4 linked regions of the Homo sapiens genome follow. The protein of the gene in region 3 interacts with the protein of the main gene of each other region in a pairwise test. Each region holds a gene or a part of one and is shown on either strand. Other genes may lie near its edges.

Evidence for each region.
Region 1: the proteins of HOMEZ (region 3) and DEF6 interact in binary tests that used the Homo sapiens proteins (3 or more experiments, as listed by UniProt).
Region 2: the proteins of HOMEZ (region 3) and ELOA interact in binary tests that used the Homo sapiens proteins (3 or more experiments, as listed by UniProt).
Region 4: the proteins of HOMEZ (region 3) and DNTTIP1 interact in binary tests that used the Homo sapiens proteins (3 or more experiments, as listed by UniProt).

Annotation. Positions count from the first base shown.
Region 1 is NC_000006.12:35,300,818-35,308,044, forward strand, and holds part of DEF6 (differentially expressed in FDCP 6 homolog), read left to right. Parts: intron 1-7,227.
Region 2 is NC_000001.11:23,738,556-23,746,601, forward strand, and holds the start of ELOA (elongin-A), read left to right. Parts: upstream 1-4,915; 5' UTR 4,916-4,948; coding exon 4,949-5,023; intron 5,024-8,046. UniProt on the Homo sapiens protein: SIII, also known as elongin, is a general transcription elongation factor that increases the RNA polymerase II transcription elongation past template-encoded arresting sites.
Region 3 is NC_000014.9:23,271,831-23,276,268, reverse strand, and holds the end of HOMEZ (homeobox and leucine zipper protein Homez), read left to right. Parts: coding exon 1-694; 3' UTR 695-3,377; coding exon of another isoform or gene 3,378-3,446; 3' UTR 3,447-3,847; downstream 3,848-4,438. Other genes in the region: E3 ubiquitin-protein ligase RNF212B, read right to left, coding at 3,378-3,446. UniProt on the Homo sapiens protein: May function as a transcriptional regulator.
Region 4 is NC_000020.11:45,808,925-45,812,116, reverse strand, and holds the end of DNTTIP1 (deoxynucleotidyltransferase terminal-interacting protein 1), read right to left. Parts: intron 3,004-3,192; coding exon 2,932-3,003; intron 1,233-2,931; coding exon 1,177-1,232; intron 1,061-1,176; coding exon 922-1,060; 3' UTR 699-921; downstream 1-698. UniProt on the Homo sapiens protein: Increases DNTT terminal deoxynucleotidyltransferase activity (in vitro). Also acts as a transcriptional regulator, binding to the consensus sequence 5'-GNTGCATG-3' following an AT-tract.

The sequences.
Region 1 (7,227 bases), on a different chromosome or scaffold from region 3:
CCTTGGGAATGATGTGTGTCCTACTGAACACACCCTCTTACCCAGGGGAGCAGTTTTGATTTTAGAACTAGTGGAGGATCAGCTGATAATTTGGCCTCCTTCCCCACTGACTATCAGGCAGTGGGGTGAAGGGGTATGTAGATGGAGCAGTGTGTCTCTGGTTTGATGAGGATCTTTGGGTGGCACCAGGCCTACCACTTCCTCCTTGACTGGCAGGAGCTGGGGGAAGGGAGGGAGGGTAGACAGGGGCCTTCCAGTCTCCTGCACCTCCAGCTGATATTCAGGGCAGTCCTGGAGCCCAGAGTGAGACTCTTGCCCACTGAGAATCAATGAGCTTCAGGTTTTGCCTCCTCTGGAGAGGGACAACCACCTTCTCCTTAGTGGAGGAAAAGTTAAGAACAGCTCCAGTCCAAAAACCTGCTGGCTGGCTAGGATCATTAGCTTTGTCCTGACCCCTGTGTGCTACTGGTCTCCCCAGGCTAGGATTTGTGGGTAGGGAGGGGAGGATGATTTAATGATGTGCAGAGCACTTGACTCAGAACCACGCAGGCTTGGATCCGTACTGCTCCCCATCTGGGTGACTTTAAGCAAGTCACTGTCCATCTTCAGTTTCTCATCTATAAACCAGGGGGTTGATCACCAAGCTGTCCTACAAAACTAAAGAATAAATTCTGTACCTCAAGTAGGTAAAATTGGTCTATGATGCAGCCTCTCCTTTCCCTTAACTGGGCCTCTGTCTCCTTTGATGCCCACACCCAACCCCTACAGCCCCTTCTTGCTCTCAGCAGGTGACACAGCTAATCCAAAGATTCCCACCTTTTAAAATTTCCAGTGTTCCTCCATGATAGTAGTTATGCTTTTCTAGTAACCCACTAGAATACATTTGGTAACTCTTAAAAGGAGCTGTGTCTTTTTTTTTTTTTTTTTAAGACAGAGTCTTGCTCTGTCACCCAGGTTGGAGTATAGTGGTGCAATCTCAGCTCACTGCAACCTCCACCTCCCAGGTTCAAGTGATTCTCCTGCCTCAGCCTCCCAAGTAGCTGGAATCACAGGTGCCCACCACCACGCCCAGCTAATTTTTGTATTTTTAGTAGAGCCGGGGTTTTGCCATGTTGGCCAGGCTGGTCTTGAACTCCTGACCTCAGGTGATCCACCTGCCTTGGCCTCCCAAAGTGCTGGGATTACAGGCGTGAGCTACTGCACCTGGCTGGATCTGTGTCTTTTAAAAGGATCACTTGGAACCTAGATTCATTTAAAGACCTTGCTGGGCAAGGTGGCTCACATCTGTAATCCCAGCACTTTGGGAGGCCATGGCAAGAGAATCACTTGAGTCCAGGAGTTTGAGACCAGCCCTGGCAGCATAGCAAGACCCCAACTCTACAAAAAATGAAAAAAATTAGGCATGATGGCTCCTGCCTATAGTTCCTGCTACTCTGGAGGCTGAGGTGGAAGGATCGCTTGAGCCCGAGAGGTCAAGGCTTCAGTGAGCCATGGTTATACCACTGCATTCCAGCCTGGGCAATAGAGTGAGATTCTTTCTTAAAAAAAAAAAGTCAATTTAGGAGAGAATTCTTTCTGAAATCATTGCTGGGTGCTTTTATGGATTCCCAAACCCTGGGGATCCTGAAGGCTGGAAACTACAGAATCAGTTCTTGCTGACTGTTGCCAACATGGACCTGACACCCACACTTGAGTTTTTAGGATCCCCAATCCCCACACTTGAGTTTTAGAGGATCCCCCAAGTCCTGAGAGGAGAACTACTCCCCTACATGCCTCCAGAGGAAAGAGTGAATAGATGAAGCATCTCAAAGGTCAGTGACTGCCAACTCAGAGGCCAGAGGCTCCCTGGGTTTGTGGAGACTGTGGGAGTCCTCTCTGAGGAAACCCAAATGGCAACTTGTGAAAAATACACCTGGACCCCACCCCTGGAAACTCTGAGTCAGTAGGTCTGGGCTGGGCGGGCATGTTTCAGTTTCACCAGTTCTCTGGGTGATTGTGGTGCTCAGCCAGGGCCAGTGCACTGTAGAGATCAAGAGCAGGGCTTTGGAGTCAGACCTTGGGCAAGACGCTTCCTCTCTCTGAGCCTTGATTTCCTCATCTCTAAAATGAGGATAATGAGAGTCCCCTGATCCAGGGCTGAGGACTGATGGAGATCTGCAAGTGAGCTCCTGCTCACAACTCCTCTGTCACTGCCATTTCCTTTGCAGCATGACCCCTCCCCTAGTCACACCCTCTCTCCACCCCCAACCCCTACCGCACCCAGGCACAGGAAGCTGACAGTCTGAGGTCGGCCCAGCTCTCTGGAGAGAGGCCCTGAGTGTCTGGGCATTTAATTCTTCCTTGTCCTACTATCTGACAGCACGCGGGGGTCAGAGTCTCTGCCCTGGGTTCTTCAGGATCCAATGGCAAAAGTGCAGGTGAGGTGCAGGTCTTAGGGACAGTACAGGGCGACAGAACTAAGCTCAAATAACTGTGCTGTTATGTGGCAGGTTCTGTCCTGGGTCGGGGAGGGCATTCATAGGTCCTCTCCTAAGACTCCCTTTTTAGAGAGATGAAAACTGAAGCCCAGTAAGGTTAATATGCTCACTGGGATTTAGTCAATCTCTGTCTGGCTTTTGTATTTTGTCTGCTTCTTCCCATGAAGTGTTTAAGTTCATTCAAGAGATACTTAATGAGCATCCATTAGGTGCCAGGCCCCGTGATACCACAGTGAAAAAAACGCAAATGTTTCTACCCTTGTGGTGCTGACATTCTAGTCAGAGGAGGCAGATAATAAACTAAATGAAATGTACAATATGATGAAAGATGATACATGACATGGAAGAAAATAAAGCAGAAATGGGTAGGGATCATGGAGGTCAGGCAGGATTGGGTTACAGGTTTAAATAAGGTGATCAGGCCGGGCAGGGTAGCTCACACCTGTAATCTCAGCACTTTGGGAGGCTGAGGCGGGTGGATCGCTTCAGCCCAGGAATTCAAGACCAACCTGGGCAACATAGTGAAAGCCCGTCCCTACAAAAGATAGAAAAATTAGGCCCAGCACGGTGGCTCTTGCCTGTAATCCCAGCACTTTGGGAGGCCGAGGCGGGTGGATCACCTAAGTCAGGGGTTCGAGACCAGCCTGGCCAACATGTTGAAACCCCATCTCTACTAAAAATACAAAAATTAGCTGGATGTTGGTGGCAGGCACCTGTAATCCCAGCTACTCAGGAGGCTGAGGCAGGAGAATTGCTTGAACCCGGGAGGCAGAGGTTACAGGGAACTGAGATCACACCATTGCACTCCAGCCTGGGCACAAGAGCAAAACTACATTGCAAAAAAAAGAAAACACACACACACATATACACACAAAAATTAGCCGGGTGTGATGGCGCACGCCTACAGTTCCAGCTACTCAGGAGGCTGATATGGGAAGATCACCTGAGCCAGGGCGGTCGAGGCTGCAGTGAGCTGTGATTGTGCCACTACACTTCAGCCTGGGCAACAGAGTGAGACCCAGTCTCAAAAGATAAGGTGATCAGAGGATATTCCACCTGGTCAGGGAATATATATTCCCTGAGAAGGTGTCATCTAAGTAAAAACAGGGAGGAGGAAAGGGTTTGAGCCATGCAGTGACCTGGAGAGAAATATTCCAGGCTGCAGGAACAGTAAGTGCAAAGGCCCTTGGGCAAGAATATGCCTGACCTGCTGGAGGAACATTAAGAAGGCAGAATGGCTGGAGGCAAGTAAACAAGAGGGATGAGGTCAGAGAAGGTGCAGCAGGCCAGGTCACATGGGGCCTGGAGGCCTGTGGAAGGACTCGAACTTTTACTCTGAAAATTATGGGAAACCATTGGAGCATTTGAGTTAGACTTTAGGAGTCAGTCAGAAACATTCAGTGAATGGGGGACATTATACTATCTTTGGAGTCAAGGTTGAGATTAGAGTCATTGCTGCCCTCAAGGAATGTAGAACACCCAGAAATGCTCACACAAACAGTGAACAGCAAAAGAATATTATTATAGAGCAACTTAATAGGGCAAATTAATAACTGGGTTAATGGCACCCTTTTTCATCCCTATTGTTTTAAATTTTATCCTAAAGACAATATATTCTCCTGGTTTAAAAAAAGAAAACACACAGAAGAATATAATGTTAATGAAGAAATTCGGGGCTGCGCTGTGGTAGCTCATACTTGTAATCCCAACACTTTAGGAGGCCGAGGCAGGAGGATCTCTTGAGCCCAGGAGGGCTCTTCCTGCCTCGGCCTCCTAAAGCATTGGGATTACAGGTATGAGCCACCATGGCCTGGGCAATATAATGGGAACTCATCTCTATGAAAAAAAAGAATTTTTTTTTTTTTTTTCCAGACAGGGTCTGGATCTGTCACTCAGGCTGGAGTTCAGTGGCACGATCTCAGCTCACTGCAGCCTTGACTTCCTGGGCTCAAGCAATTCTCCCACCTCAGCCTCCTGAGTAGCTGGGACTACAGGAGTGTGCCGCCACACCCGGCTAATTTTGGTATTACAAAAAAATTTTTTAACTTAGCTGAGCATGGTGACACATGCCTGTAGTCCCAATTACTCGGGAGGTTGAAGTGGGAGGATCGCTTGAGCCTGGGAGGCGGAAGCTGCAGTGAGCAGAAATCGTGACACTGCACCCCAGCTTAGGCAACAGAGTGAGACCCCGTCTCTAAATAAATAAACAAAAATAAAAATGAATTTATTATAAAATTAAAACATGTTAGTGGTAATTTTTTTTTTGTGGGGGTGTGTGTGTGTATGTGTGTGTGTGACAGAGTCTCACTCTGCCACCCAGGCTGGAGTGCAGTGGCACTATCCTTCCTGGCTCACCTCAACCGCCACCTCCCAGGTTCAAGCAATTCTCCTGCCTCAGCCTCCCTGTAACTGGGATTACAGCCGCCTGCCATCACACCCAGCTAATTTTTGTATTTTTAGTAGAGATGAGGTTTCGCCATGCTGGCCAGGCTGGTGTTGAACTCCTGACCTCAAGTGATCCGCCCACCTGGGCCTCCCAAAGTGCTGGGATTACAGGTGTGAACCACTGCGCCTGGCCAAATTTGTTTTTTTGTTTTTGTTTTTGTTTTAATTTTTAGATGGAGTTTCACTCTTGTTGCCCAGGCTGGGGTGCAATGGCACAATCTCGGCTCACTGCAACCTCTGCCTCCTGGGTTCAACTGATTCTCCTGCCTCAGCCTCCCAAGTAGCTGGGATTATAGGCGCCTGCCACAATGCCTGGCTAATTTTTAGTATTTTTAGTAGAGACAGGGTTTCAACATGTTGGTCAGGTGGGTCTCGAACTCCTGACCTCAGGTGATCCACCTGCCTCGGCCTCCCAAAGTGCTGGGATTACAGGCGTGAGCCCCTGCACCCGGCCCAAAAAAATTTTGAAGTAAAGAAGAATATAATGTTGGCCGGGCGCGGTGGCTCATGCCTGTAACCCCAGCACTTTGGGAGGCCGAGGCGGGCGGAACACCTGAGGTCAGGAGTTTGAGACCAGCCTGGTCAACATGGCAAAACCCCGTCTCTACTAAAAATACAAAAATTAGCCAGGCATGGTGGCGGGCGCCTGTAATCTCAGCTCTTCGGGAAGCCGAGGAAGGAGAAGCACCTGAACCCGAGAGGCAGAGGTTGCGGTGAGCCGAGATCACGCCATTGCACTCCAGCCTGGGCAACAAGAGTGAAATTCTGTCTTAAAAAAAAAAAAAAGATGAAAGTTTCTCCCCTCACTCTGGAGAGGTGATCACTGTTAACAGTTTGTGAGTCTTCTAGATTCTTTCTGTATACAAATAAACAGGTTGAACCATATGAAATTTCTGACACTTGATTGTTTTGACCTACTGAAATACTAGTTTCATATAATTCGACCTAATCTTTGCACATGTATTTGACAAACATTTCATTCTGTAGCTTGCTTTTTTTACATGCCAGTGTAGTATGCATATCTTTCAATGTCTGTTCATATAAACATAACAAAGATCACCCACAACTTTTATTAAGCAGTGCACTATGCACCAGGTACTCTTCACTCAAAACAGCCTTTGGAGCAGACCCTATCATTATCCTCACAGAGGAGGAGACTAAGGTGTTGGAGAATTAAACATTTGCCCATGAGCACACAAGTGGGAAAAGTGAAATCTTTCCAGCTACATACAGTGGTTCCTGACATGGTATACCTGTTTCCTACTGGAAGAGCCTCAGTTTGTCTCCATTTTTTCATATTATAAACAATGCTTAATGAGCATTCTTGTATCTCTCCCATGAGTGTCTGTAGGTTGGATGATTAGAAATGCTGGGGTGGCCGGGCGCAGTGGCTCACGCCCTGTAATCCCAGCATTTTGGGAGGCCGAGGCGGGCAGATCTCCTGAGGTCAGGAGTTTGAGACCAGCCTGGCCAACATAGCGAAATTCCATCTCTACTAAAAATACAAAAATTAGCCGAGCATAGTGGCACGCGTCAGCAATCCCAGCTACTCAGGAGGCTGAGGCAGGAGAATCACGTGAACCTGGGAGGCGGAGGTTGCAGTGAGCCAACACCGCGCCACTGCGCTCTAGCCTGGGCGGCAGATTTGGAACGCGTCTCAAAAAAAGATAAGGACACGGGTAGTTTGAAAAGAGGCCAAGAGACAGCAGATGAGAATATATAAAACTTGAACACTTGTCACTTCAGAAGTGGTCAGTGGATGTTGGCATTATTCTCTTGAGGTGGTCACCCTGGGTTTTAAGTGCTAGGCATTGAGCCAGTGGCACCCCTTAGAGTGGGGATTGGTATTCTATGACCACAGATGTGTTAGGCAAGACTTTCCTGGAATTAGTGATAAAACCAAACTCAAATGGCTTAAGGGAGAGGGGATTTATTGGCTCACATAACCAAAAACTCCAGGGATAACTGCCCAGAGGGAAATGAGGGAAAAAAAGGAAATACTCCCTTCCTGGGATCTCCCACTTCCCAGTTTGCCAAGGAAAACTGAGCCCCAGGAGGACACTGAGGCAAAGTCTCAATACTTTCTCCCCCTCCTCTCTGAAAAGAGAATAAAATGAAGGCTTGGCACACACACCATCTCCGAGACAGTGCTAGCTCCTGCCTCCTAGGAACTGATTCCAAGGTGAACTGCTGGTGGTGGAAGAAGCCCTTCAATATAGCATGTATTGATTGCACTTGATGTACAAAAGAGGACATAGATGCTGAGGGACATAAAGATGAACAGAGACCTTGTCTCCAGAGTTCA
Region 2 (8,046 bases), on a different chromosome or scaffold from region 3:
TTAGCCAGGCGTGGTGGCACACACCTGTAATCCCAGCTACTGGGGAGGCTGAGGCAGGAGAATTGCTTGAGCCCGGGAGGCAGAGGTTGTAGTGAGCCAAGATCCTGCCAATGCACTCTAGCCTGGCTGACAGAGCGAGACTCTGTCTCAAAACAAAAACAAAAACAAAAACAAAAACAAAAACAAAAAAAACTTGCCAGATGGAGGATTTTATATCTTGCTTTACAGCAGCACATTATATTTTCTTTACCAAGGCAATGCATTTTCCCCAATAATTGCTGCCTTTTCAAAAAGACCTATTATATGCCAATTACTTGACATATTAATAAGCCTCAGGATATCTATACAGTAGGAGGAAAAAATTTCAGCAAGTTTAAGTAACTTGATCAGGAGCCATGGCTAGCATTGGTGGAATTGGGATTGGAGCCCAGGTTGTCACTAAGCTCCAAGCTTTGTTCTTTACACCACCATCCAAGCAACTTCAGATGCTGCCTACTTGCTAAGATAGAGTGGCAGACCTCTCGGCAGAAGAGGTCCAAGGAGGAAGCCCGCTTGAGCCACCATGCCTCACTTAGCACACTGTCAGGCCCGCAGAATCTTACTTGACTGTTTTATGAAAGGGCTCCTCTCTGCTATGAGGACAAGATGGTTGATTTTTTTTTTTTTTTTGAGACAGTTTCATTCTTGTTGCTCTGGCTGGAGTGCAATGGTGCAGTCTAGCTCACTGCAACCTCCATCTCCCAGGTTCAAGTGATTTTCCTGCCTCAGCCTCCCAAGTAGCTGGGATTACAGGCACCCGCCACCACACCCGGCCAATTTTTTTTTTTTTTTTTGAGACAGTTGTTGCCCAGGCTGGAGTGCAATGGCGCAGTCTCAGCTCACTGCAACCTCCGCCTCCCGGGTTCAAGTGATTTTCCTGCCTCAGCCTCCCAAGTAGCTGGGATTACAGGCACCCGCCACCACACCCGGCCAATTTTTTTTTTTTTTTTTTTTTTTGAGACAGTTGTTGCCCAGGCTGGAGTGCAATGGCGCAATCTTGGCTCACTGCAACCTCTGCCTCCTGGGTTCAAGCAATTCTCCTGCCTCTGCCTCCTGAGTACCTATGATTACAGACAGGTGCCACCACGCTGGGCTAATTTTCATGTTTTTAGTAGAGACGGGGTTTCACCATGTTGGCCAGGCTGGTCTCGAACTCCGGACCTCAGGTGATCCACCCACCTCTGCCTCCCAAAGTGCTGAGATTACAGGCATGAGCCACTGCGCCCGGCCTGAAAATTTTTTTAACTTGTCTTTCAGTGTTTTAAATCTCTCTAATGCTAGCCAGCCTAGGATTACTCTTTTCCAAAATTAAAATACCTTTAAGTTATTTTCATTATAAAAATAGACCAGACTGGGTGCAGTTGCTCATGCCTGGAATCTCAACACTTTGGGAGGCTAAGGCGGGAGGATCACTTGAGCCCAGGAGTTCAAGACCAGCGTGGGCAACCTAGTGAGACCTTTTCTCTACAAAAAATAAAAATAAAAAAATTAGCTGGGCATGGTGGCATACACCTGTAGTCCCAAGCTGAGGCAACAGGATTACTTGAGCCCAGGAGGTCAAGACTGACAGTGAGCCGTGAATGTGTCAGGGCACTCCAGCCCGGGCAACAGAGTGAGACCCTGTCTCAAAAAAAAATAAAGTAAGGGCTGGGTGCGGTGGCTCATGCCTGTAATCCCAGCACTTTGGGAGGCCGAGACGGGCGGATCACGAGGTCAGAAGATCGAGACCAGCCTGGCTAACACGGTGAAACCCCATCTCTATTAAAAATACAAAAAAAATTAGCCGGGTGTAGTGGCGGGCGCCTGTAGTCCCAGCTACTCAGGAGGCTGAGGCAGGAGAACGGCATGAACCCGGGAGGCAGAGCTTGCAGTGAGCCGAGATCGCGTCACCACTCCAGCCTGGGCGACTGAACGAGACTATACTGAGTAGACTATACTTGCTGCAAAAATTCAAAAAAGTGTACGGAGCAGATGAGAGCCTCCTTGCCCATCCTCCTCCCCTAGTATAGCCTTGAATTCATCTCCCAAACAGAATAGGATGGGTCTTTTAGTTACTCTCGCAGAGGGCTCTGTAGTGCTGATAAGAGAGCTGAGGAGCCCCTCTTAGGTTTTCAGATGACACGTCAGGCTAGCCTTATATTTAATAATTTAAATTTAATAATAATTATTTCAGTTTTCAAGAAACTTACTGAATCTCACCTATGTGCTAAATGTTGCTGATTGAAGATGGGTAAATAGCCTCTGACCTTAGGGATCTCATTCCTGTGTTGAACACTCGTGTGTAAACCAAGGGTTACAATGGTAATCCCCCAGTGAATACATACAGAGTACCAATTTTAGAAGTGGTTGAAAAGTTTTTTTAAAAAATCAGAGAATTACACATGTATAATTAGCTGCTCATCCTAGAAGTCATATATCCAGACCAGGCGTGGTGGCTCATGCCTGTAATCGCAGCACTTTGGGAGGCTGAGGCGGGTGGATCACTTGAGGTCAACAGTTCGAGACCAGCCTGGCCAATATGGTGAAACCCCGTCTCTACTAGAAATACAAAAATTAGCCGAGCGTAGTGGCGCATGCCTGTAGTCTCAGCTACTCGGGAGGCTGAGGCAGAAGAATTGCTTGAACCTGGGAGGCAGAGGTTGCAGTGAGCCCAGATCTCGCCATTGCACTCCAGCCTGGGTAACAGAGTGAGACTCTGTCTCAAAAAAAAAAAAAAAAAAAAGTCATATATCCAAATGTAAGAGTACTTTGCAGGTAAGCCTGACTCAGTCTGACATAGGGGTGGCTGTCTGGGAGCAGCACACCCACTCCAGGATCCCCCAGAAGCATTCGTTGTTTCTTTCTGTTTTTTTTTGGTTTTGTTTTTTCTGTTGCCCAGGCTGGAGCAGTGGTGCGATCATGGCTCACTGCAGTCTTGATCTCCTGGGCTCAAATGGTTCTCCTAACTCAGTCTCCCAAGTAGCTGGGACCACAGGCACGCACCACCATGCCTGGCTAATTTTAAAATTTTTGTATTTTTTGTAGAGGCTGGGTCTTACTACGTTACCCAGGCTGGTCTCAAACTCCTGGGCTCAAGCAGTCCTCCCGTCTTGACCCCCAAAGTGCTGGGATTACAGGCATGAGCCACTGTGCCCAACCTCATTGTTTCTTTTCATTTTGGTTATTGAGCTCTCTCTGGATAACATCTGCAGAATGTTTCATGTGTCCCGAGTATGTGCCAGGCCAATTACTCAGCAATTCTGCTTCAAGAATCAGTCTGTATTCCATTACACCAGTGGTACATTTTCAAAATGGAAGGAATATAAAATGTAAAAGTATTTGCTACGCAGAGGAGGGAGACACTACTGCTGGGACTAGAATCGAAGTTTTCTCACACCCAGTTCAATGCCTTTTCTACAACATCCCTCAGTTGAGCCTTAGGGTACCAAGTGGATGGTCATTAGTCTTGTATGGACTTTATATCCAATGCTGATTATAAGGTCTAGATGATGCTAGGTGGCAGAGATTCAAAGTTGGACAGGTCGGTTACTGTACTTGATAAATAAACAGCCCAGTGGCAAGACAGATAAATAAACTGACCATTTACACCCTGAAAAGGTGGTCAGTTGCTTAGGGAACTGGGGGAGGGGCGCCAAATGGAGGAGTAGGGACATGGTAGAGAGGGCTTTTCAGCATAGTGAGTGAATGAATGCTCATTTGAAGAAACAACTTGTGTTTAAGATGTTTTTCTTTCTTCCAGAGCTAGAATCTGGAAGAATCTCTGGGCTTTCCTGCTTTGAGGGAGAGATCAGGCTAGGTGCATTGCCAATTTGCTGCTGAAGATCTGATTAGGTTCTGCTTTGATGTGATCAAATGAGATGTAATCAGTGCTGGTACTTTAAGTGAGTTTGCAACTATTTAGTTGCTCTTTTTAGTAGTAGTATTAGTAATGGTAAAACTTAGTGCTTTTAGGATGAGAGTAGACGGCCTGAAGAATAATATCTTGGGCTCTTCTAATCAAGCCATACGGCTCATTGGCAAGTCATCAGAGGAAACATCTATCTATCTATACATTCATGCAATAAGTATTTATTTAGTGCCTATGTGCCAGACACTGTTTGTGGGGAAAACAAGACACATGGGCTATTATTGCCTCATGGAAGGAACTAAGCTGTTTGGATTTTGAAAAATCCCTTTCTCTGGGCCTCAATTCCTCGACCTGTTCAGAAATGTGCGCTCACAATGGTCCTAGACATCTTAGATTCAGGTTCCATTTTCAGTTCTTTCCTGTCCTGCGGCCATCTGCAAGTTAATTTGGTCTCCCTGAACCTCAGTTTCCTCATCTGTAAAATGAAGATCATACAACTCGTTTCATCAGGTTGTACTGAGGCTGGAAAAGATAGTCTAACTACTGACGCATCGTGTGCTCAGCCTAGGGTGGCTGCTACCGCGGGTGCCTGCGGACTCCTAGGACGGGCACCAGCCCGGGACCCCTGACAAGGTGTTGATTAGGGTGTGGCTAAGCCCCAGGCGGGAGAAAGCGTTGGCATTTATAAGGCCAGGGTCTGGCGCGGTGGCCTCATTCCGTCTTGAAGTAGACCCTGGAGAGGTCTTCCAGGCTTGGGCTCAGCACGCGAGCACAGGGAGCGGGGGTGCCGGCGGCGGAGGCGCGTACGGCCCGAGCAGCCCCCAGCCCCCAGCGCGCACACTTGGGCCAGGGGCGCGAGGAGTGCGCGGCCGCCGGGTGGGCGCTGGGGAGCGGGCCCTGGGGGCGGAGCCTGCAGCCCACCGCCCCCCACACACCCCAGCCGAGGCCCGGAAGGGGCCAGGCGCGCTTCCGTCTCCGCCGGGGATGCACGGAGGGCGGAGCTGCGGCCCGAGGACGCGACGCGAGCCCAGTTCCGGCGAGGAGGCCGCGCCAGTGACAGCGATGGCGGCGGAGTCGGCGCTCCAAGTTGTGGAGAAGCTGCAGGCGCGCCTGGCCGCGAACCCGGACCCTAAGAAGGTAAGCGAGGGGGCGGCGCGTAGCGGGATGGGCGTTGGGTCGGTGAGGGCCCCGTAACGGTCGCGGCCCGAGCGTGGCGGGGTTCGGGGGCTGGGACCCTGAGCCAGGCCCCGCGGGGCTGGGGTCGTGAAGTTCGCGGCCATTGACCGCTGCCCGCGCGTTGGGACCCCGTGCGTCGGGCGTCGGGACGCGGGGCCCCGGCCGCTCCCCCTCCCTCACGGGCCCGGGATGGGGGCGCGCCCGGTGCGGACACCGCGTGCCTAGCGCTTCCTCCCAGAGGCGCTCCGTGGCGTCCCGAGCCAGCTGTTTCCTGCGGGAGAGCGTGCCCGGGGCGGGAGGGCGCTGGCCGCCGCCTCGTTGGCCTCCCGGTGCCTGCGCTGGTGCCCGGCTCCCCGCGGAGCGGCGCGGACTCCCCAGCGGGTGCGTGTTCGCTGGGAGGAGAAGACGGGCGCCCGAACGCTGCGGAGCCTGGACTCGCGGTCTGGTCCGCGCCTCTCGGAGACGCGGTTACTACTCTCCGGCTGGATATCAGAGCGTGGACCTTTCGCTTTCTCAGTGAATCCCTTTCAAAACAGAATAAAGCCTCGCGTCACCTAAGCATACTCCTGAAAACTTAGGTTGGAATTGAAAAAGAGGCGGGGGCCCGGGGTTGGAAGTCGCAGCTAGGTTTCCTTTTGGCCATTAATAGGAAGGTAAGAGCTACCGTTTCTCGTTGTTCGAGTGATGGACAACCATTTTTAATTGTAGTTAACTAGTTTTTGTTGTTTATTGTACAAACTGAATATTAAGTTAAACGCGTTCTTGTACCTTTTCATCTTTCTGTCACTCACTTCTCTGGTCTCCAGGAGACAGTCTGGTGGTTGTCAGGATTTTTTTTTTTCTTTTTTTTTTTTGAGGCGAGTCTTGCTCTGGTCGCCCAGGCTGGAGTACAGTGGCGCGATCTCGGCTCACTGCAACCTCCGTCTCCCGGGTTCAGGCAATTGTCTGCCTCAGCCTCCCGAGTAGCTGGTATTGTAGGCGCCCGCCACCACGCCTGGCTAATTTTTGTATTTTTAGTAGAGACAGGGTTTCACCATCTTGGCCAGGCTGGTCTTGAACTCAGTTGTCAGGATTTTTTAAGTGGAAGTACAACGATGAAAAAGCACTTATGTGTTTGGCATTCTCCGTCATCATTCTGGCCGGGGCGGGCAGTTCTAGGAGTTGGAACTCAGTCCTGGTGGAAAAGGAAGTCGTGGAGGGAGGGCTAGGGCCGTGGGGGAACTGCTCTGCTGAGCCTCTTCCTCACCTGCTGCTTCCTAGGACTAACCTGAAAGGCTAAGGTACCAGGCTGAAAGTCAGTGCTCAGAAAACCAATCGTCATTCTTTGGGGTTTTTTTTCTTGAAGAGCCACTTTCTCTTTACCTTGTTCTAGCCTGTTGGAGGTAGGGTTTCTGCAATTCCAAAGGCCGTACACAGCCTCTCACCATCAGACCACTTTTTAAGGCTCTTCGTTCATACCTAGCTCGAAGATTCACTTCCTCAGGAAGCCATTTTAGTTACAAATCTGGGAAAACTTAAAATGCTTTCATTGTGCCATGTTTTCTGTTGCAGCTTCAGTACCGTACCTAGTGGTCAGGCATACTTACAAGTTTCTTTTTACAGTAACCCCTTGTGGACATCTAATAAATGGTCATTATTTTTTAGTACTAGTTTGTTTTCCTGAACACTGTAAGATCTGTGACTGACGTTTGATACCTTAAAGCAGTGCCATATAATAACTACCCACTATTTGTTCTTTATTTCTGTCAGATAAAAATGTTCTATGTAGTGTCTACAGTCATTTTTTTTTTAACTAGAATTTAGATTTGGAAGTAGTTTTTCTATTAGTTGATTTGCATGAAATACAAAATTAGGAAAAGGCTTATTCCACCTCAACCTAGTTGAACTATTAATGATTTTTTTTTTTTTTTGAGGATTTGGGCTCTTTCTAGATAGAAAATCACCCTGAACTTCTAGCTTTGCATTGTGAAGTGAGCATCATGAAGATGAGAAAATGTTGGGAGATCATTTTTGCAAAGGGCATAATAGTCGGCATTCAGATATGAGTTAACTGCAGAGGGAAAATTGCAAGCTGTCATGTTGGCCTTGTTCCTCTCAACCTTCTGGTAACCTAACAAGCTCCTACAGGTTGTATGTGAAATTGCAAGATGATTATATAGCCCTGTTGAATTTACAACCAGATCTTGCTTTCAAACCATTATTAGCCAAGGGTTTGATTCCACACCTGTGTTCATGGATTTTTTGGTACTAGACATTGCTGTAACTCTGTTTTCACTTTTTCATCTGTTATCTTGGCTCACTTAAGGGAGAAGGTATCAGCAGCCTAGGACCACTTGGTTTCTGTTTTTATGTTTCATAGTTCATGGCTGATAAAAATTACCTGTCCTTAGGCCGAGTGCAGTGCCTCACACCTGTAATCCCAGCACTTTGGGAGGCCGAGGTGAGTAGATCACCTGAGATCAGGAGTTCGAGACCAGCCTGGCCAACATGGTGAAACCCCTTCTCTACTAAAAGTACGAAAATTAGCCAGGTGTGGTGGCAGGCGCCTGTAATCCCAGCTGCTCGGGAGGCTGAGGCAGGAGAACACTCGAACCCGGGAGGCAGAGGTTGCAGCGAGCTGAGATCGCGCCATTGCACTCCAGCCTGGGCAACAAGAGCGAAACTCCGTCTCAAAAAAAAAAAAACAAAAAAAACACACACACACAGTTGGCCGGGCGCAGTGGCTCACGCTTGTAATCACAGCACTTTGGGAGGCCAAGAGGGGCGGATCATCTGAGGTCAAGAGTTCGAGACCAGCCTGGCCAACATGATGAAACCCCATCTCTACTAAAAATAAAAAAATTAGTTGGTCATGGTGGTGGTGCCTGTAATCCCAGCTACTCGGGAGGCTGAGACAGGAGAATCTCTTGAACCCAGGAGGCGGAGGTTGCAGTGAGCCGAGATGGCACCATTGCACTCCAGCCTGGACAACAAGAGCAAAACTC
Region 3 (4,438 bases):
ACAGGCATTACCCCCACATCTGGAACCAGCCTGGCCCCAAGGGCTACGGCATAACTCAGTACCAGGTAGAGTTGGCCCCACAGAGTACCTTTCCCCAGATATGCAACGCCAGCGAAAGACCAAGCGCAAAACCAAAGAGCAGCTGGCTATCCTTAAATCCTTTTTTTTACAGTGCCAGTGGGCACGGCGTGAGGATTACCAAAAGTTAGAACAGATCACTGGTTTACCTCGGCCTGAGATCATTCAGTGGTTTGGTGACACACGCTATGCCTTGAAGCATGGGCAACTAAAGTGGTTTCGGGACAACGCAGTACCTGGTGCCCCTAGTTTCCAAGACCCAGCAATTCCTACACCACCACCATCAACCCGCTCCTTGAACGAAAGGGCTGAGACACCACCTCTGCCGATCCCTCCACCCCCACCGGATATACAACCCTTGGAGAGGTACTGGGCAGCCCACCAACAGCTACGGGAAACTGATATCCCTCAATTGAGTCAGGCATCAAGGCTTAGCACCCAGCAGGTGCTGGATTGGTTTGACTCTCGATTACCTCAGCCAGCTGAGGTGGTAGTTTGTCTAGATGAAGAAGAGGAAGAGGAGGAGGAAGAACTGCCAGAAGATGATGAGGAAGAGGAGGAGGAGGAGGAGGAAGATGATGATGATGATGATGATGATGTGATCATACAAGACTGAGTGGGGAGCTGGGGGAGGGGAGGTCTGTTACTGAAAGATGAACCAACTTAGTAACTGTTTAAACAAAGAAACCACATTTTTAAAATTACCTTGTGGCAGAGAACTAAAAAGCTTTGTGTTCTTCAGGGTGGGTGGCAGGGGGATATAGTGAGGGTGGACCAGGGAGAATGACCATAGGGCACTAAGTAAGGCTGGGATTGGATCAGCAGAAATCCAACCCTCTAACCTTAGGGTAGGGAGTGCTAAGGATCTGGGGAAACCATGGGCTGGGAAGCTGCTCTTGCTCTCCTCGTGTCTGCTGTTTTTTTCCCTTGGTGTACTATACAGAGGCCAGATGTTGGCACCACCTCTCCAGGAGGATTGGAAAGGAGGAGTAAAGGATTCTGATTTGATTGATGATTCCAGTGCATCCCCAATCCCACCATCTTACCTGGAATATAAGGCTGCCTTGTACCCCTTTTCTGAGCACAAGTCTGTGCGTAATGCAACTGACTCTCTTACTTTTTTCTTAGTAACTGATCATTTCCTAGACAACCAAGATTCTCAATAAGTCCCAGTCTCATCACAAATATTAATATTTCCTTTTCCTCATACCAACTTGACTATGTTTCACCCGCTTCATGACTAAATCACAGGTGGCAGAATTTTTCAGTTCTTTTTTTTTTTTTTGAGGTGGAGTCTTGCTCTGTCGCCCAGGCTGTAGTGCAATGGCGCAATCTCAGCTCACTGCAAGCTCCGCCTCCCAGGTTCATGCCATTCTCCTGCCTCAGCCTCCCGAGTAGCTGGGACTACAGGCACCTGCCACCACACCCGGCTACTTTTTTATATTTTTAGTAGAGACGGGTTTCATCATGTTAGCCAGGATGGTCTTGATCTCCTGACCTCATGATCCGCCCACCTTGGCCTCCCAAAGTGCTGGGATTATAGGCATGAGCCACCGTGCCCGGCTATTTTCAGTTCTTATGCTGTGACCACTTTGCCTTGTAGCTTTTTCTATCTTTCCAAAATCCTCACTCTGTTCATTGTTTGTCTCAGGGAAAATCTTCCCCCACCGAGCTTGTAAAAAACTTTAATAATTGGGTGGAGAATAATTTAGAATGGATATTTATTGGAGGTGGTAATTAGGGAAGATGTCCTTTTAAACAGTAGAATTGTGTTACAAAGGGGTGAAAGAGAGGGAATAGTTTCTCCTTGTTGAAGGGCAGTGAAGGTAGGTTTCAGGTTTGGTTTTACAAACCTGTTAACTACCTCCTGTCCAGCTTGACAGAGACTAATTTTTCATCTTTTTGCTGTCAATTTGTTTCCAGAAAAGAGACTTTTCCCTCTCTTGATAGGATCTGTCTTAGGGACAGAGGGACCATCGTCTTTAAGTGAATTAATTATTGATGTTTTAGAATGGTTTTCATCAGTTGGGATCAGCTATATGGCAAATAGGTATCATCAATGAGTTAACCATCTAAAAATAAAAGAGTGGAAGCCCTAAAATGCTAGAATAATAATAAAAAGGCCAAAAATAAAATTGTTTCTCTCTCAACCACTTTGCCACTCCTATGGTTTAGGGATTAATGGAACCAAATCCATTAACATTCTAACTCAGCATACTTTTAACTTATTGTTTGGAGGGGCAGGACTTATTGAGGTAAATTAAAAGAACAAAAACTGTAAAAAGGAAGTAGTTCAGCATCTATCGCCAGCCAGGTTGTTTCTCAGCCATCAAATGATAATGACTAAAATTTCTGAGGCTTCAGGAGTAACAGAGATACAACAGTCTTGGAGGTAACTCCATTTGCTACAGGACAGGCCCTTGCCTAAAAGAGAAGGTATCTAGAAATGCCTTTAAAATAAATTCAGAGTACCAGAAAGGGTATGGGGATCCTAGTTCAGATACAAGATCATTCCCAAGACCTAATTTATTTCTGGCAGATGCCTGCTATTTTCTGTTTTTCCAGTATTTTTGCTTAAGGCCAGCTTGTGAGTGGCTAACCTATTTAATTCGTCATTTCTGCCTTTTAAAACCCAAAGTAGAATACATGTTTGATCTCAGTGATAGTGTTGTTCGCCCATTCCACCATTCTAGAGCTTGTAAAAGTGATAGAATTGTAGCAATAAAAGGGCATCGTCTTTATTTTACTATCTATATACTAAGCTGAAAATCAGTGTCTCCAACAGTTGTTTTCAATAGAAAGGAAAATTAACATTTAATAGTAACTAAGCATAGAGGAAATAATAGACAAATAAAAAAGTATAATAAGGAAAAGAACAGAGATATTGCTCGTTAACATTGGCAATGGGACAGTATATCCAAAGCTAAAAATGAAATCCAGAAATGAAACAGTGATGAGTATATGATCCATCACAATCCCCATTCCCAACTCCCAACCAAGCATGATGCCAAGAATTATTTTTTTGACCTTTGTTCCAAATTGTAGGAAATGAGGGGAGCTACCAGTGTCTTCTGGAAGAGATATAAACATCTTCCTGAAGCACTAGCCTTTTGTAAGACCTGACCACTGTCCTGGGAGGTGATAAGGGTGAATAGGGTAAAGATGGGGGGAGCATAAGGTACAGAGTGAAACTAGGAAACAATGCAGGGATACATTTTCCAGGGCCATCACCCCTAATGCGTACTGGAAGCTACAGTCCATCCTTCAGCAGCATGTATAGATCAGATCTTGAAGATGATCTATCTAGAAGTGGTCCATGCTTCTCTCCCACTGGGTAATCCCATATGCCTCCGTTGTTGGTAGAGAGTCTGCAGCAGAGGACAAGAAGGTAGATGTGGGTGTTTATAACAGCAAAAAGGGCAAGCAAGTCTCTCTGACCTGTTGTATGAAGCTTATCGAGACAGACACCACTGCTTTTGCTTCCCCATAGTTTTCTTCATTGCATGATAACTAACTTTTCCAAACTAGGATTTGCTACATCTAGTGTGACAATCTCTGGAACATTTCAGTAGCTTATGGTGATAATAATAAGGATGAATATTTGAAAATTAAACTATTTTGGAAAATCTGGGACATATGACTACCACACCCAGAGATGACTACCAGGGAGGCAGAGTTCTTAGGCCTCTGAGGAGGTGGCATTTCCTTCAATAACTTTAAAATTTTTTCACATTTTCGGTTGTTTGTTTGTTTGTTTGTTTGTTGTTTTTTTGAGATGGAGTCTCGCTCTGTCACCCAGGCTGGAGTGCAGTGGTGCATCTCCGCTTACTGCAAGCTCCGCCTCCCGGGTTCACGCCATTCTCCTGCCTCAGCCTCCCACGTAGCTGGGACTACAGGCGCCCGCCACCATGCCCGGCTAATTTTTTGTACTTTTTTTAGTATAGACGGGGTTTCACCATGTTAGCCAGGATGGTCTCGATCTCCTGACCTCATAATCCGCCCGCCTCGGCCTCCCAAAGTGCTGGGATTACAGGCATGAGCCACCACGCCTGGCCCACATTTTCAAAAAATACATAGAATAGTATAATGAACTCATGTGCCCATTGTCCATCTTTAACAAATAATTAATGGCCAATCTTTTATTTCTACTCTCCCAGTGTCCCTCCCTACTAAATTACACTGATGCAAACGCCAGACATCATTTGACTTTCCATCCATAAATACTTTAGTATGTACCTATAAAAGAGAAAGGCTATTTTTAAAAACATAACTACGATATCATCATACCAAAAAACTCTCCAATGTTAACAATTATTTAATATCAAATGTCCAATAGATAATTTTGTTCAACTGTCTCATG
Region 4 (3,192 bases), on a different chromosome or scaffold from region 3:
TCCGCAGAGATGACAGAAATAAAAAAAGGCAACATTGGTTCAGGCTGGTCGCAGTGGCTCACGTCCGTAATCCCGAACACTTTGGAAGGCCCAGGCAGGAGGATCACTTGAACCCAGGAGTTCGAGACCAGCCTGAGCAACAGGATAGGGAGACCTGTCTCTACTTAAAAGAAAAAAAAAAAAAAAGAAAAGAAAAAAAAAAAAGGCTGGTGAGGTGGCACGAGCCTGTAGTCCCAGCTACTGGCGAGGCTGAGGCGGGAGAATCGCTTGAGCCAGAGGCTGCACTCTAGCCTGGGCAACAGAGCAAGACTGTCTTCAAACAAACAAAAACCCCAACAACACAGGTTCATATCCTGTATATCCTACCTCCCCAGTGGGTAGTGTGTAACCTTGGGGCGGGTCCTTTAGTATCTTAACCTGTAAAATGGGAGCAATAAAAGCCAACTCTATTTTTCATATGATCTGTCATCAAACTCCATCGCATTCTGCCATGTCCTTACATTAGCTGGGTAAGGAAACTACAAATGGGCAAAGGGAAGACGGGCAGGGTACATGGTGCTCCCAGGTTGGTCTTATCAAGCCTGGCTCTATACTGTTATGGGTGAGGGTTATCTCGTCCTTTTTTCCTACACCCACTTCTAGAGCCCTTGATGTTCTGTCAATTCCCACAAGGTAGAGGGCACAGCAGGTTCACCATCTGTGTTTACTACAAACTGTTTAATTGTTTCTTATCCCAATAACTTTACAAATATAGAACCACATGCTAGTCTGGGGGTGCTGTGCAGTGAGTCACTACAAACTCGCTCAGGCACAGCTTAATGCCGCTGAGATCCATCTAGGAGCAGTCCCAGCGGTGGCCTCAGCCACGTGAGGAAGAGGGCTTTGGAGGAGGGCTGCCAAGTGTGGCCAGGGGACCCGGCCTCAGGTCTGTGGAGGTGCTTCAACAGCACGATGCTCATTCTCTGTCCGTAGTGTCTCCATATACTTTCTCATCTTCTCCACCATCCAGGAGGGTAGGACAAAGGATTTCAATTCCTCTAGCTTCAGATCCAGGCATCCTCTGGAACAGACATTGAAGAGAGAAGTTGGGGGAAGTGAGGATGTAGGCCCTGCCTCATTCTAGGGGCTATTTGGAGGCAGGGAGAGGAGAAGGGGCAGGAGACCCACTGGTTTTACCTGTAATCATCACTGGCCGCAAGGTCCCGGATGTCCTCCTCGATGAGGAGGTAGGCCTGAGGCAGGAGCAAGGGAGAGTGGTCATTGCCTGATTCATTTCACTCCAACTCAGTAACACTTCATTAAACATCTGTTTAATGTAAGGCCTGCTACTAGGTGGAAGCGGGGGATGCGGTTTACAATTTAGTACGGAAGAGTAAGTGGGGAGGGATGGGAATGGTTCCTTGAGACAATCTTTTACTACAGTAGATGCTTCATGGATGGGAGAGTAGGGACTGGTGACTTATTTATAGCCTTCTCTTTTAAAAAAGGACCCATTTCTCTCTTGAATGGTGTGGTGAAAATTAAGAAAAAAAAAAAAAAAAGAAAAAAAGAAAAAAAAAGGGATCCACCATTGCTCCTACACCTTTTGGTTAAGATCAAGTATACGAAAGGACCCAAGGTGGGTTATAACAAAATGGCAAGAAAGCCAGCAAAATATATATGGAAACAGGAAATCAGGAAGAGGAAACCATGTGCTCCCTCTGAGGACAAAGATAACTTGGTTTTGAACTTTGTGGCAAAATGGAAAACATGATAAACTGCTCTGCTGTCTAGTAATTGGCCTGTATTGTACTGGGGCCTGTAGAAATGCTTTGTCACAATGCCTCGGTCTACAGTGGGTGAGGGCCCTTTTGTGAACTTAACATATAGGAAGAGATATTCATCATATTAGAAAGTCTTCTGTGGGAGACTTTCTAATGTTAGGGTCAGGAATAATTGTGTATTCCTTGAGTAATTTGTCTACATCTTATGGGCACTATGAACCATAACAGATCAGGTGTCCATGAGTGGGGCCTACAGCTGAATTTGCCAACATCTGTAGAAGTGCACAGGTCTCCCAGGTCAGCAATATAAAAAACACTTTTTTTTTTTAAAGAACTACTTTTACTGGTGGCTTAATTTTAGGTCCTGCCCCCACCCCCTACCATCTATTTCTTATTTATGTAATGTTGCATTTTATGTGCATGAAGCTTACCTGAAATCTTTTTTGAAGTAAAGCATAGGCATAAATAGAGTAGTAAAATAAAATAAAAGGTAGCTCTCACTGCCAGAAAGGAGATGGCATATCAGTTTGTAAGGCACTTAGATTCTAAAAGGAGCAGTACCTGTGGTGGGAGTGAGTGAGTCCTCAGGTGGGGGACATTGTGTGTGATGGACAAAGCCCTCAACAATAGTTTTTGAACACATGCAATGATGATTTTCCTAAGGTTGCTGTTTCATATGATCTGAGAACTCTTCAAGTAGAGGTAAATCTGGAAGGGGCTGCCAAGTGTGCAAACACATTTCATTGCTAACTCCTACTGACAAGGGTTGCTGCCTCAAGTACTGTGTTGAGAAAAGATTCTATAGCTGTGTCTGGTGGAAGAGTGATCAATGAGTGAAATCTGTCAGTGGGTGCAGTAGTGGGAAAAAGTAGTACTGTGTGTCTTATACCTGCTATTCCTATGGACAGCTAATAGTATCCAAATATGTGATCTTGGAGGCATGAGGTAAAAGTGTGAGGGGGCGGAAGGGAGACCTAGGGATAGGGAAGGGAACCTGAAGATTACAATTTGCTCTTCAGCATGAAGAAATAGGCCTTATAAGTCTCTCTTCTCACACATTGGTGAGGCTTTGGAAGTCAGATTTGGAGGTAGGCTGTCACCCACAGCCAAAATCCTGGTTCCCAGGTGGGGTGGGTCACTGGCAGTGGCACAAATGAATAATGCTTACCATCTTGCCCCCTGTTGCCCGCATGTGATGCTGCTCAGCCAGCCAGTGCTTATCCTGGGGGTCAGCTGCATACTGTAAGGAATGAAGTTGTAAGAAAATTAGCCTCGGGTAAGGGGCTTTTCTCATTTGGTCCCAGAGCATACTCTTGGCCCTTGAGCAGTTCTTACCAAAAGTCCTTGTCTCCAAGCGTGGTGGACTTAGAGGGCTCACTAATCTCTTCAGAGAAAGCTAAGCCAACCCCGAGGGCAGACCATGGGACCC